Linked DNA regions of Homo sapiens. The protein of the gene in region 1 interacts with the protein of each later gene in a pairwise test. Each region holds a gene or a part of one and is shown on either strand. Other genes may lie near its edges.

What was found.
Region 2: the proteins of RLF (region 1) and GCH1 interact in a two-hybrid assay, tested with the Homo sapiens proteins (one study listed by BioGRID and IntAct).

Annotation. Positions count from the first base shown.
Region 1 is NC_000001.11:40,234,285-40,241,558, forward strand, and holds the end of RLF (zinc finger protein Rlf), read left to right. Parts: intron 1-1,507; coding exon 1,508-6,163; 3' UTR 6,164-6,637; downstream 6,638-7,274. UniProt on the Homo sapiens protein: May be involved in transcriptional regulation.
Region 2 is NC_000014.9:54,899,673-54,907,656, forward strand, and holds the start of GCH1 (GTP cyclohydrolase 1), read right to left. Parts: upstream 3,155-7,984; 5' UTR 2,992-3,154; coding exon 2,649-2,991; intron 1-2,648. UniProt on the Homo sapiens protein: Positively regulates nitric oxide synthesis in umbilical vein endothelial cells (HUVECs). May be involved in dopamine synthesis. May modify pain sensitivity and persistence.

The DNA.
Region 1 (7,274 bases):
GTTAGTGACATTGGGCAACTTAACGTTCTGAGTGTTGGGGGTTTTTTGTCTATAAAATGAGGATAATACGTGCAAAAAAGTTTATTTCAAATAAGTGCCTAGGCTGTAGTAGGGGTTCTGTAAATCAATGACAGTGATTTCTTTGTGTTCCCAGCATTTAGAATGAATGATGCCCAACACAGAATTAAATGCCTGGCAAATTGTTTACTGATTTAAACAGTGGAATTTACTCCATTATTTTACATTGTATTCTGTTAAATAGTTACAATGTGCCAGCGTTATTATTTCATCTTTATAACCTTAGGAGGAAAATCTGTTATTAACATTACTGTTATCATTTTACCAATAAGGAAACTGAAGTTTAGAGGTTGAGAACTTGTCACTTGTTGTGAAGCTGGGGTTCAAAGGCAGTCAAAGTCTGATTCTAAAGTCTCTGCTCATAGCAGTGCGTTTTAAGCCACTCTGACATATCTTGCTTTTCTTTGCTCATGTCATTTTTGTATTTTATTTCAGCCTCTCAGATAAAAAGAGTTATCTTGTATGTACCAAGCTTTTATCACATATGACCAGGTCTTCCTAATTTTAAACTAGTTTCTGAGAACCTGCTGCCATAGCAAGATTTCTGATTTCTGTTTTTTCCCTGGAAAGCTGAGATTCAGTACACCTGTGACGGTGACTATAAATTACCAGATTCTTTCAGGAGGAAATGGAAAGGATCATTTATTTTATCTTTGAAGTTTTGAAAAATCCAAGTGTTCATGATAGAGAGAATTTTTTTTTTTTTTTTTTTTTTTGAGACGGAGTTTTGCTCTTGTTGCCCAGGCTGGAGTGCAATGGTGTGATCTTGGCTAAACTGCAACCTCCACCTCCTGGGTTCAAGCGATTCTGCTGCCTCAGCCTCCGAGTAGCTGGGATTACAGGCATGCACCACCACACCTGGCTAATTTTGTATTTTTAGTAGAGACGGGGTTTCTCCGTGTTGGTCAGGCTGGTCTCAAACTCAGGTGATACACCTGCCTCGGCCTCCCAAAGTGCTGGGATTACAGGCGTGAGCCACCGTGCCCAGCCAAAGAGAATTTCTTAAATTGAATTTAATCTTAGACTCACATCTATACCTGTGTTTCCTGTTGCTGCCATTTTAAACCCTGCCCCTCTACTCAACATCATTCTATTTTGAATCCTCCAGTGACCTTTTTTATCCTGAATTTCTTTGGATTCACATGCATTTATTGTTTATGCATTCGGGGTACAGATAAATTCCTTGGAAGTAAGGAACTGCTTTAATACACAGTGCCTAGTAAATGTACATTGTTCGTAGTTGTAGCATCTAATTTAGTTCTTTGCATGTTGAGACAAGAAATATCTAAATGTAACTTTCATGAAGAAAGATTTAAGATAAAATTTAGGAACTCTAAAAGTTTTTACAAGCTAAAATTCCTTATCAGTGAAAGTTATATAATCTTTCTGTATGCAAAAAAATAATTTTTTTATCCTCTTTTACTTACAGGCACAAGATGCTGGTCTTGGGGTGTCAATTTTACTGTGTGTCAGAGCTCTTCAACTCAGATCAAGTGAAGATGAGGAAATGAAGGCATCAGTTTGTAAAACAATTGCCTGTCTTTTACCAGAAGATTTAGAAGTTAGACGAGCCTGTCAGCTTACAGAATTCTTAATTGAACCCAGTTTGGATGGATTTAATATGTTAGAAGAACTATATTTGCAACCAGATCAAAAATTTGATGAAGAAAATGCACCGGTTCCAAATTCTCTTCGATGTGAGCTCTTACTAGCTTTAAAAGCCCACTGGCCTTTTGATCCTGAGTTTTGGGACTGGAAAACTTTAAAACGACACTGCCACCAACTTTTAGGACAAGAAGCCTCAGATTCTGATGATGATTTAAGTGGCTATGAAATGTCCATTAATGACACAGATGTTTTAGAGTCATTTCTCAGTGACTATGATGAGGGTAAAGAAGATAAACAATATAGAAGAAGAGATTTGACAGATCAGCATAAGGAGAAAAGAGACAAAAAACCTATTGGCTCTTCTGAAAGATATCAGAGGTGGCTTCAGTACAAGTTTTTCTGTTTGTTATGTAAGCGGGAATGTATAGAGGCTAGAATTCTTCATCATTCTAAGATGCATATGGAAGATGGAATTTACACCTGTCCAGTTTGTATTAAAAAATTTAAGAGAAAAGAAATGTTTGTTCCTCATGTGATGGAGCATGTTAAAATGCCACCAAGCAGAAGGGACCGCTCTAAAAAGAAATTACTGTTAAAAGGCTCTCAAAAGGGTATTTGTCCTAAGAGCCCCTCTGCAATCCCAGAGCAAAACCATTCATTGAATGACCAAGCCAAAGGAGAGTCTCATGAATATGTCACATTCAGCAAATTAGAAGATTGCCACCTGCAAGACAGAGATTTGTATCCATGTCCCGGTACAGACTGTTCCCGTGTGTTTAAGCAATTTAAATACTTAAGTGTGCATCTTAAAGCTGAACACCAAAATAATGATGAAAATGCCAAGCACTACTTGGATATGAAAAATAGAAGAGAGAAGTGTACTTACTGTCGACGACATTTTATGTCTGCTTTTCACCTTCGAGAGCACGAACAAGTGCATTGTGGGCCTCAGCCTTATATGTGTGTATCTATAGATTGCTATGCTAGGTTTGGATCAGTAAATGAACTACTTAACCATAAACAAAAGCATGACGATCTGCGTTACAAATGTGAATTAAATGGCTGTAATATTGTTTTCAGTGACTTGGGACAGCTTTACCACCATGAAGCACAACACTTTAGGGATGCATCTTACACATGCAACTTCCTTGGCTGTAAAAAGTTCTATTACTCCAAAATTGAATACCAGAATCACCTCTCAATGCATAATGTTGAAAATTCAAATGGAGACATAAAGAAATCAGTGAAACTTGAGGAGTCTGCAACAGGTGAAAAGCAAGATTGTATTAATCAGCCCCATCTACTTAACCAAACTGATAAATCACATTTACCTGAAGATCTTTTCTGTGCAGAATCAGCTAATTCTCAAATAGATACAGAAACTGCAGAAAACCTGAAAGAAAACAGTGACAGTAATTCTAGTGATCAGTTAAGTCATAGCTCTTCAGCTTCAATGAATGAAGAGCTAATTGACACACTAGATCACTCTGAAACTATGCAGGATGTATTGTTATCTAATGAGAAAGTCTTTGGGCCCTCCAGTTTAAAAGAAAAATGTTCCAGTATGGCAGTTTGTTTTGACGGGACTAAGTTTACCTGTGGTTTTGATGGCTGTGGTTCCACATACAAAAATGCAAGAGGAATGCAGAAACATTTACGGAAGGTTCATCCATACCATTTCAAGCCCAAAAAGATAAAGACGAAAGATCTGTTTCCCTCTTTGGGTAATGAACATAATCAGACAACTGAAAAGTTGGATGCAGAACCTAAACCCTGCTCAGATACAAACAGTGACTCCCCAGATGAAGGTCTAGATCACAATATTCACATTAAATGTAAACGAGAACATCAAGGTTATTCCTCAGAATCCTCCATTTGTGCTTCTAAAAGGCCCTGTACAGAGGATACCATGTTGGAACTTCTGTTACGCTTGAAACATTTAAGCTTGAAAAACTCAATAACACATGGATCTTTCTCAGGGTCATTGCAGGGGTACCCATCCAGTGGTGCTAAGTCTCTTCAGTCAGTTTCATCTATCTCAGACCTTAATTTTCAGAATCAAGATGAAAACATGCCAAGTCAGTACCTTGCACAGTTGGCGGCTAAGCCGTTTTTCTGTGAGCTTCAAGGATGCAAATATGAATTTGTGACCAGAGAGGCTCTGTTAATGCATTATCTTAAAAAGCATAATTATTCAAAAGAAAAAGTCCTTCAGTTAACCATGTTCCAACATCGGTATTCCCCATTTCAGTGTCATATTTGCCAAAGGTCATTTACAAGAAAAACACACCTTAGGATTCATTATAAAAATAAACATCAAATTGGCAGTGACAGAGCAACTCACAAACTATTAGATAATGAAAAGTGTGATCATGAAGGCCCATGTTCAGTAGATAGGTTGAAAGGTGATTGTTCTGCAGAACTTGGAGGTGATCCCAGTAGTAACTCTGAGAAACCACACTGTCATCCTAAAAAGGATGAATGTAGTTCTGAAACAGATTTGGAATCATCTTGTGAAGAAACAGAAAGTAAAACATCTGACATTTCATCACCAATAGGCAGCCATAGAGAAGAACAAGAAGGAAGAGAGGGCAGAGGTAGCAGGCGAACTGTTGCTAAAGGAAATCTGTGTTATATTTTGAATAAATACCACAAACCATTCCATTGTATTCATAAAACTTGCAACTCCTCATTCACCAATCTAAAAGGCTTAATTCGCCATTACAGAACTGTACATCAGTACAACAAAGAACAGTTATGTTTGGAGAAAGACAAAGCAAGAACCAAAAGGGAACTTGTCAAATGTAAAAAGATATTTGCTTGCAAATATAAGGAATGTAATAAACGCTTCCTGTGTTCCAAAGCTCTTGCTAAGCACTGTAGTGATTCTCATAACCTAGACCATATTGAAGAGCCTAAAGTACTTTCCGAAGCTGGATCTGCAGCAAGGTTTTCTTGTAACCAGCCTCAGTGCCCTGCTGTTTTTTATACATTCAACAAGTTGAAGCACCACTTGATGGAACAGCATAATATTGAAGGGGAAATACATTCAGATTATGAAATTCATTGTGATCTTAATGGCTGTGGCCAGATTTTCACCCATCGCAGTAATTACTCACAACATGTATATTACCGACATAAAGACTATTATGATGATTTGTTTAGAAGCCAGAAAGTAGCAAATGAGAGACTACTAAGGAGTGAAAAGGTATGTCAAACAGCTGATACTCAGGGGCATGAACATCAGACCACCAGGAGATCATTTAATGCTAAGTCTAAAAAATGTGGCTTAATCAAAGAAAAGAAAGCCCCAATAAGTTTTAAAACCAGAGCTGAGGCCCTCCATATGTGTGTGGAGCACTCTGAGCACACACAGTACCCCTGCATGGTTCAAGGATGCTTATCTGTGGTGAAGTTGGAGAGCAGCATTGTGAGGCATTACAAACGCACTCATCAGATGAGTAGTGCCTATTTAGAGCAACAGATGGAGAATCTTGTTGTTTGCGTTAAGTACGGTACCAAAATTAAGGAGGAACCCCCTTCTGAAGCAGATCCCTGTATAAAGAAAGAAGAAAATAGAAGCTGTGAATCAGAGCGCACAGAACACAGCCATTCCCCGGGTGACAGTAGTGCACCCATCCAGAACACTGATTGCTGTCATTCAAGTGAAAGGGATGGAGGTCAGAAAGGGTGCATAGAAAGCAGCTCAGTATTTGATGCAGATACTCTGCTCTACAGGGGAACTTTGAAATGTAATCATAGTTCCAAAACCACTTCCCTAGAACAGTGTAATATAGTTCAGCCTCCTCCTCCTTGTAAAATAGAAAATTCCATACCTAATCCCAATGGGACTGAAAGTGGGACTTATTTCACAAGTTTCCAGCTGCCTTTACCAAGGATCAAAGAATCAGAAACTAGGCAGCATAGTTCAGGGCAAGAAAACACTGTAAAAAATCCAACCCATGTCCCAAAAGAGAATTTTAGGAAACATTCACAGCCCCGGTCATTTGATTTGAAGACTTACAAACCTATGGGATTTGAATCTTCATTTCTGAAATTTATTCAGGAAAGTGAAGAGAAAGAAGATGATTTTGATGATTGGGAGCCTTCAGAGCACTTAACATTAAGTAATTCTTCACAGTCCAGTAATGATTTAACAGGGAATGTTGTGGCAAATAATATGGTGAATGACAGTGAACCTGAAGTTGACATACCTCATTCTTCCAGTGACTCTACAATTCATGAGAACCTGACTGCAATCCCACCTTTAATAGTAGCTGAAACAACAACAGTTCCTTCCTTGGAAAACCTGAGGGTTGTATTGGACAAAGCATTAACAGACTGTGGAGAGCTTGCCTTAAAACAGCTTCATTATCTTCGGCCAGTGGTGGTTCTTGAAAGATCTAAGTTTTCCACACCAATTTTAGACTTATTTCCAACAAAAAAGACAGATGAGCTTTGTGTAGGAAGTTCATAAGTAGCAATTTTGTTTTAGTAACAGACTGGCTCCAACACTGCAACATGGGGACATTTGCCAACTCGAACAAAGGCTGAGAAGCAGCCACACCGTTGTTTAGGGTAGAATAGGCTGTGTATTTACATGAATGTATAATATCTATGTCAGCAGTATTGGCTGAGTCCATTAGCTCTCCAGTTGGTTTAATGATTGGGTTTATTTTTGTTTGTTTGTTTATTAAAAAAATGGAACTGTACACTTGTTTGGTGCTAATTAATACATCAAAATATACTGGGGCTTCCTTTTTCAAATTAAGTGTGCATGATTGTATATGGAACAAATACTAAGGTCCCAGGGTGGGAGGGCTAGGGAAAGGGATATGGAGTTCTTACTTGACTTGAATGTGCACCTGAGGGTGCTTTGTGTAATATATTGTACACTACAGCATCTTATATTTTTTGAGTTGAGTTTCAATAAATTACAATTTTTCACCCATTCGTTGTTTACTCATAATGAGCTTTCATGCCACATGTAAACTGAAATTGCACTTGTATTTTCTGAAATATGCCATTCACATTTTACCCCAGTAATTTTTTTATTTATTATTAGCTAAATCATTCAGAACAAGGTTCTTTTTTTTTTTTTTTTTTTTAAGACAGAGTTTCGTTCTTGTTGCCCAAGCTGGAGTGCAATGGTGCAGTCTCGACTCACTGCAACCTCCTCCTCCCAGGTTCAAGTTATTCTCCTGCCCCGGCCTCCCAAAGTGCTGGGATTACAGGCATGAGCCACCGTGCCCATCCCAGAACAAGGTTCTTTTTATCTTAAAATTTTTGTTTTTGTGGAAAGATAATTCTGAGATTAATTAGCTGCGGGAGTCAAGATAGCTCCCAGAGGATGTCCAGATGTTGGCCGAGTAGAAAGGAGAGGATATGCCAACCTAGAACATGAAGGACGTAGCAAATTCAGAGGGCATGTTTCTAGGAAACTACAAATAATTTGATATGCTGGCAATAAAAGGGGAACAAGAGAGTGACATCATTGTAGAGATAGCAGGAACTAAATCATGAAGACTAAGGAGTTTGGATTTGAGTCTATAGGCATATATCAGTTGAAGTGTGGAGTGCTCACTTGA
Region 2 (7,984 bases), on another chromosome or scaffold:
CCATCTTGAAGTTACAATCCAGTGGCATTCACAATATTGTGCAACTATCACCACTCTCTAGTTCCAGAACATTTTCATGACTCCAAAAGGAAGCTCCAAAGGAAGCTCCATACTCATTAAACAATCACTACCCATCCCCCTCTTCTCGCCAGTCCCTGACAACTACTAATCTTGCAGTGTCTCTACATCCATGGACTTTTTTTTTTTTTGAAATGGAGTTTAGTTCTTGTTGCCCAGGCTGGAGTGTAATGGTGCGATCTCGGCTCACTGCAACCTCCGCCTCCAGGGTTCAAATGATTCTCCTACCTCAGCTTCCTGAGTAGCTGGGATTACAGGCACCTGACACCATGCCCGGCTAATTTTTGTATTTTTGGTAGAGAATGGGTTTTCCCATGTTGGCCAGGCTGGTCTCGAACTCCTGACCTCAGGTGATCCGCCCGCCTCGGCCTCCCAAAGTGCTGGGATTACAGGTGTGAGCCACCGCGCCCGGCCCATGGACTTTTTAAATAGTAAAACTTGACCAGAACAGTTTTTTTGTTTTTTTTGTTTTTTCTGGAGACAGAGTCTCCCTCTGTCGTCCAGGCTGGAGTGCAGTGGTGCAATCTCGGCTCACTGCAACCTCCTCCTCCTGGGTTCAAGTGATTCTCCTGCCTCAGCCTCCCGAGTAGCTGGGACTACAGGCGCCCGCCATCACACCCGGCTAATTTTTTTGTATCTTTAGTAGAGACGGGGTTTCGCCATGTTGACCGGGCTGGTCTTGAACTCCTGACCTCAGGTGATCCGCCCACCTCGGCCTCCCAAAGTGCTGGGATTACAGGCGTGAGCACCGAGCTCGGCCAACCAGAACAGTTTTCTAATGTGGAATGATGTGTTCTTTGCAGTTATTAATCCTCTTTAAATGAATCTTCGCTCATGAGATATTTCAGCTAACCATTTCTCAAGTAAATCTGTGAGTCACTTTAGATAATTCTGTGACCTGTCTCAGGGTCAGAAATTCCTCTCTCTTTGGGTAATTAGATCCATGCTAGATTACAGAACACTGTCCTATGAATTCTCTTTAAGGGAGGATTCCCAAAGCCTGGCCGATGCTGTGAAGTAAACCACTTTCTGTGTCTGCAAGGGGCAAAATGAGTAAGGCCTTAAGAAGACATTTCATTACATTGTGAAATATCTCACACACACACACACACACACACACACACACACACACACACACAAATTTAAAGCCCTAGACCTCCAAAGAGCTGATCCCACAGAAAACTGAAAGTTTATTTTTCAGTCTTTGTATTTTGAAATCTCTTCTGAGATTCCAAACTTTTGCAATTGAGGGGTAAAAAAAAGTGAATTTGGAAACAGAACTAGAAGTCACTGCCGGTTTTAGAGTGTAGCATCATTTCCTTTTGGGGCCCCGTCTCTTTCACATTCTGATTTCCCACCCTTCCTTTGGGGTGTGGAAGACTGGGCAAAAAATAACTTTCTTTTTCCCAGGGTCTATTTGGTGGAATCGCTCTACACTCCTTCAGAGAAATAACTGGGGCAGGGAGATTGCCTTTCCAGCGCACTGTTTTTCTTTCAAAAAACAGTGAACGGTAGAATGCTTCTTAGGGCAAATAAATAAATGTCACCAAGACACACGGAAGGTGTAGACTGGAAAATAATGTCTTTGGTCCCAGCTGTAGAAGCCAGAAGCTTTATTTTTTTAAACACAGACCAATACTGCTTCTCTGGCCAACAGGCAGCAAAGTCCCCATTTTCCACTCTCCATCACCCCATCTTGCATCCTACCCACACTGATTGCATCCCCACCCTCTGGGTGAAAAGCCGACACGCCTCAGACGCTAACAGCACCGGGTCAACCCGGCTTTATTTTAGGGTGGGAGGGTGCGGGGATGAGACTGAGTCCTGGAACCCACGGAGCCCTCCGAATCCCGGAGTAGCTTTACTGCTTTTTGCGGGGTTGGGGGTGGGGGGAGGAAACAGATTTCAGCAGCAAACTCACCCAATCAACCTCACACCTCAAACTCCGGGGAAGCCCGTGCCCAAAATTGTGCCGAATTTTGTAAATGTCCTGAACTGGAGTAAACTTGAGGTGGACAAAAAAAAAAGCACAACTCTAAGACTCCGATCCCCTGGCAAATCAGTGGGAATGCAGGTCCCCGAGGTTTCGGGGAAGGATCGCGCCGAGGCTTCAATCCAGATACACACCCTGACAATGGGATCTCAATAAGGAACTACCCAGGAAGCCGTCGCCGCAGCAAGTGCCCAGGTGATCCTTATCGTGGGCAAGTTTGGAACCGCAGGTACCCCGAGAATCCCGCGCTGGGCGCTCAGGCGAGAGGGCTCCGGGCTCCCGTCCACGCCCACCCGGGGCGTTCTAGGAGGGCTGCGCGCTGGGAGCGGGAAGGGCCCCTGGAAGGCGGCTGCAGCGAGTTCCGGGGCTGAGAGGTCGCTGCCACCCAGGAAGCCCCGACTGTGCCCCACGCAGGGCCTCGGCAGGGCGGCAGGCTAGGGCGGGTTCGGAGGTGACAGCGCCCGGCTTCCTGCGCCAAAAGTGAGGCAACTCCGGAAACTTCCTGGAGCCGGCGCGCGTTTCCTGCAAGCACCGCCCCCGCCGCCCGCACGCTCTAGCAGCCCGCGGGCGCACTGACCTGAGATGGTCTCCTGGTAGCCCTTGGTGAAGAACTGCATGGCCGAGGCCGCCCTCCAGGGCGTCTTGAGCAGCCCTTGCCGCTGGGGGTTCTCGCCCAGCGAGCTCAGGATGGACGAGTAGGCGGCTGCCAGGTTAGGGAGGTTCAGCTCGTTATCCTCCTCGCTGCGGGGCCGCTCGCCCTTCCAGCCGTCCGCGGGCTGCGCGCTCTTGGCCTCGGGCCGCGGGGGCTTCTCCGCCGGCCTGCTGGGCCCGGGCCGCGGCGGATCCCGCTCGGGGAACCCATTGCTGCACCTGGCGCCCCGCGGCTTCTCCGCCGGTGCCCGCACAGGGCCCTTCTCCATGGACCCGCCGCAGCCGCTGCCGTTCGGGAAGGACCCCGGGGCGCTTCGAGGTCTGCGGCTAAACTCCGCCGGTGGCCGCGGACAATGGGCTGTGGCCGGAGTCACCTGAGGAAGGTACGCAACCTGCTTAGATCACACTCCGAGCCGGGAGCGGCCACAGGCTGGAAAGCCCGGCCGCGCCTCCTTTTTATGGCCCGGCGGCTCAGCCTGCGCCGCGGAGCGCTCCCATTGGCCGGCCCCGCCTCGCGTCACGGCCCTCGCCGCGCCCCTCGGCCTCCCGCCCCCGGGGTCCCCAGCAGGGGTCGCGGCTCCGGAGACGCCCGGAGGGGTTCGCAAGCGCAGGGAGGGAAGGAAAAGGGCGCCGGCCCCTAGGATCAGGCGGGACCCCTCCACTTATTGCGGAATGAGCCGAACCCGAAAAGAGGCAGTCGTCCAGGAGCTGGGATCTCAGTGAGAAAGACGCGGTCTGGGCGCCCAGTCGCCCCCTCTTCAGGCCAAGAGGGCGCTGCATTGAAGGGCTCCGGTCCCCTCGCCCTGTGAAAGATCAGCAAACAGGTGGCCTTGCCTGGAGAGAGACCGAGTTAAGCCACCGATTAGGAACCAACTCTTAAGCTTTCAAGGCAAGAGAATAATGTGACTTCAGACTCTTGGGTTTAGTTAAAAACGCACCTGCCACCTAGGGGCCAGGTGGCACCGCTGTCGGGGCAAGTGTCACATCAAGTGGCCCTTATGTGGGTCCCTATGTCTAGAAGGATAGGATTTATGGTTGCTAGAACTTTGATCCTGGAAAAATTGATTTGCAAACGAAGATAGGACTTTCACTTAAAATCCATTTCCGTCGGTGGCTCACGCCTGTACTCCCGGCGCTTGGGGAGACCGAGGCGGGAGGATCGCTTGAGGCCAAGAGTTCGAGACCAGCCTGGAAAACATAGCAAGACCTCATCTCTATAAAACCCATCGCATTTTCTAGAAACGCAGTTGTGCAGATTTGGTGCTCAATTGTTTTACAGTTCCATGCAAAGCGTCTTTCCCCAGATGTTGGTACAAATTGTGAAATGCTATTCACCAACTGAACTCTTAACCAGTGACATCTGCTGTAACTGTTTTCTTTGAGATTAATAAATGGACCTTTTTCCTCACTTGAGGGATTATCTCATAATGCCGAAGGTGAGCTTTAAAACATGTATCAAAATAATATTTTTTTTCTTTTTTTTTTTTTGAGGCTCACTTCATCCTCCGCCTCCTGGGTTCAAACGATTCTCCTGCCTCAGCCTCCTGAGTAGCTGGGATTACAGGCACCTGCCACCATGCCCGGCTAAATTTTTGTATTTTTAGGAGAGGTGGGGTTTTGCCATGTTGGCCAGGCTGGTCTCGAACTCCTGACCTCAGGTGATCCACCTGCCTCGGCCTCCCAAAGTGCTGGGATTACAGGTGTGAGCCACCATGCCTGGCCTAATGTAGATTTTCTGACATAGAAGCAGGTATTAATAGGCTTAGGATCAAACAAACCAATAGGGAAGCCTGTGGAATTATTCTATGCTAACAATGTAGCTTGGTCATTATAATAAGTAATTAGTATTTATGATACATCTGCTCTAGGCGCAGCCCCGTTGGAAACATTCAGGAAAGAAATATGGACATTGCCTAGCCTTGTAGGCACCTTTACTCCAAAATGGAAGAAATGTTCATATCAGTGGGGTTATTTATTTATTTATTTATTTATTTATTTATTTATTTTTAAATTTTAATCTATTTATTTAAGAGCGGGTTATGAGACTGGCTAATTTTTGTATTTTTGGTAGAGATAAGGTTTCACCATGTTGCCAAAGCTGGTCTCGAACTCCAGGGCTCAGGATTATAGGCCTGAGCCACCGTACCCGGCCCAGTGGGGTTTTTAAATAGAGAATATGAACATCCTTTGGAAAACCTCTTTGTCATTTTCCTCTTTATTAAAATTTTTAAATTTTTTATTGTAGGTTTTTATTGGGAGTGGGGCCCTGCAACATTTTTTTCCTCTAACTGTGCTGCCCACTGTCTGCTGATACCTCCTGGTCAGAATTATCTGCTGGGTCTCAAGCTATTTCAAGCATAGTTGAAGACAACATTCAAAGGATGACCTTGCATTTAACAAATGAAAACAAAGATACTAAGTGAGGTACTTTAAAAATGGAGAGAGTAGATAGAGATGCTTTCAGTACGAATTTATTTTTAGTGGCAATCTTTCGTCTTCCTTTAAAAACATGTGTAAAGATTAACTAATATTGTATTCCACAAAGACAGTTTCTAATGAAATTTTTACCCTAAAAATTAACATTTTCTTACACGTATTGCCACTGAGGCACCTGCACCTTTGTTGCAGGACAGGGCCTCTGGATACATGCTAACTTGTAAAATGGAGGCAGTGCCTTTCGGCCAAATGCCCAAAAATAATACAAGAAAACTTTGAAATCACCAACATTATATGAATAATTTAATAGTAAAATGTAGATAGTTGACAAGGATGGTTATAAGTAGCAACAGGAGAAAAAAAGAGGAATAAACCAAAAGGGAAGTAGGTCCCAGATAATTTATTAGCATAAAATGGTTCAACAGTAATATTATGAGCATTTACAGCCAGGAATTGTTACCGCATCCATGTTTTTCACCCAGTAAGGGATTCATTTTCAGCTTGGACCCAGTCTGGGAGTTTCTTTCTACCAAAAAGCCAAGGAATTTTTTAAAGTCTCTAATTTCTAGGACAGCAGCAGAACAAAGAGGCAGATGAGAAAGACACACCAAGTCAGAGACTGAACACTGCAGTGCTACAGAAATGTACAAAGAGTTGTTTGCCAAGTGTGATATGATGATACATGTATATGTAGGTTTTCAGCCATAGTACCTGGTTCATAACTCACAGTCTTTTGTTACAATGTTGGGGCACTTTAGGCCTCAGAAAATAGAATCAATCTCTCTCTCTCTCTCTCTCTCTCTCTCTCTCACCTTCTGCTCCCCTTCCACTCACTAAAGGCAGGACTCTAATCATCTCCCGCCTTTCTGATTACGGATCATAAACCCTCATTGCAAACAGGGTCCTGCCTCATACCCTGGAGGAAGCATGGCTGCACAGAGAGGTCAATCACACCTTGACACGGCTGTCCATGCTTCAATCATGCCTATACAACGAACATAAAAGGCCCAGACGGCAGGGCTCAGGGAGGTTTTGGACAGCTGAATATGTGGAGGTTCCTGGAGGGTGGTGTGCCCAGGGAGGGCATGGAAACTCCATACCTCTTACCCCATACCTCACCCTATGCATCTTTTCATCTGTATCTTTTGTAATATCCTTCATAATAAACTGGTAAACGTAAGTGTTTCCCTGAGTTCTTTGAGTCACTCTAGCAAATTAATTGAACCCAAAGAGGGGGTTGTGGAAACCCCAACTTGAAGCCAGTCAATCAAAAGTTCCAGAGGCCCAGACTTGTGAGTGGTGGAAAGGAGGGGCCAGTGTTGGGGACTGAGCCTTCAACTTGTGGGATCTACAGCTATCTCCAGGTAGGCAGAATCAGAATTGAATTAAATAAGAGGGAGGACACCTAGCTGATGTCCCCTGCTTGGTGTGTGGGAGAAAACCCCCACCCATTTGGTCACAGAGTCTTCTGTGTTGACTGTTGTTGTGGTATAACAGCAGAAGAAAACCACAGTTTCAATTTGTCCAAACACCAAGGGTAATAGACAAACTAACATTGGGTATTTGGCAACAGTAATTGGAAAAAAGCAAATTTAAGTGAACTTGATGGAGGCTCTATACTTGAAATTCAAACTCTGGAGGAGATTTTGGATCAAGGTAGAAAGGTACAAAGAAAAGGTGGCCGGGCATGGTGACCCAAGCCCGTAATCCCAGCACTTTGGAAGGCCAAGGCAGGTGAATCATTTGAGGTCAGTAGTTCAAGAATAGCCTGGCCAACGTGATGGAACCCCGTCTCTAATAAAAAATACAAAAATTAGCCGGGCATGATGGTAGGCACCTGTAGTCCCAGCTACTCAGGAGGCTGAGGCAGAAGAATCATTTGAATCTGGGAGGCAGAGGTTCCAGTGAGCCAAGATCACGCCACTGCACCCCAGCCTGGATGACACAGCGAGACTCCATCTCAAAAAAAAAAAAGGCCCAAGAGCCTCATATTGAGTATAATAAGCCATCCAAAGCCTAAATGTACCCATAAAGGATACCCTAACAGACATGTGTCCCTGGTAGAGAATCTGCAATACCATCTCAGAAGAACAGGCAGATGCTAAGAGGGATGCTAATAGAAAGTGCACCTCAGCGCTGCTGAACTCTGTCCCTGCCTCCACATTACCCCAGAAGAAGGGATGCAACACAGCTCCTCAAGCTCCAGACTGCAGCAGAGTCAGGAAAACAAAAGGGCTTCTGTTATCATGGAAAAACCTGAAGATGTCTCAACAATATCAGAGATACGCAGTGTCAGGAAACAGCCTCCCAAGCATGGGCAGGGGGCAGAGAAACAGCATGGCAACCGTGCAAACACACACCAGCCAAACAAAACAAAAGAAAACCAAGGGGGAACATCATATGGCATGCAGGAGACATAAAGGCAAATAATGCAACTAAGAAGAAAGCAAATCTCATGGAACAGAAGAAAATTCCTCACGAATGTTTGATGCCAGAGACTAACTCAATAAAAGTATAAATTCAGGCTGGGTGCAGTGGCTCATGCCTGTAATCCCAGCACTTTGGGAGGTTGAGGCAGGAAGATCACCTGAGGTCAGGAGTTCGAGACCAGCCTGGCAAACATGGTGAAACGCTGTCTGTATTAAAAATACAAAAATTAGCCAGCGTGGTGGGCACCTGTAATCTCAGCTACTTGGGAGGCTGAGGCAGGAGAATGGCTTGAACTTGGGAGGCAGAGGTTGCAGTAAGCTGAGATCACGCCACTGCACTCCAGCCTGGGCAACAGAGCGAGACTCAGTCTAAAAAAAACAGACAAACAAACAAAAA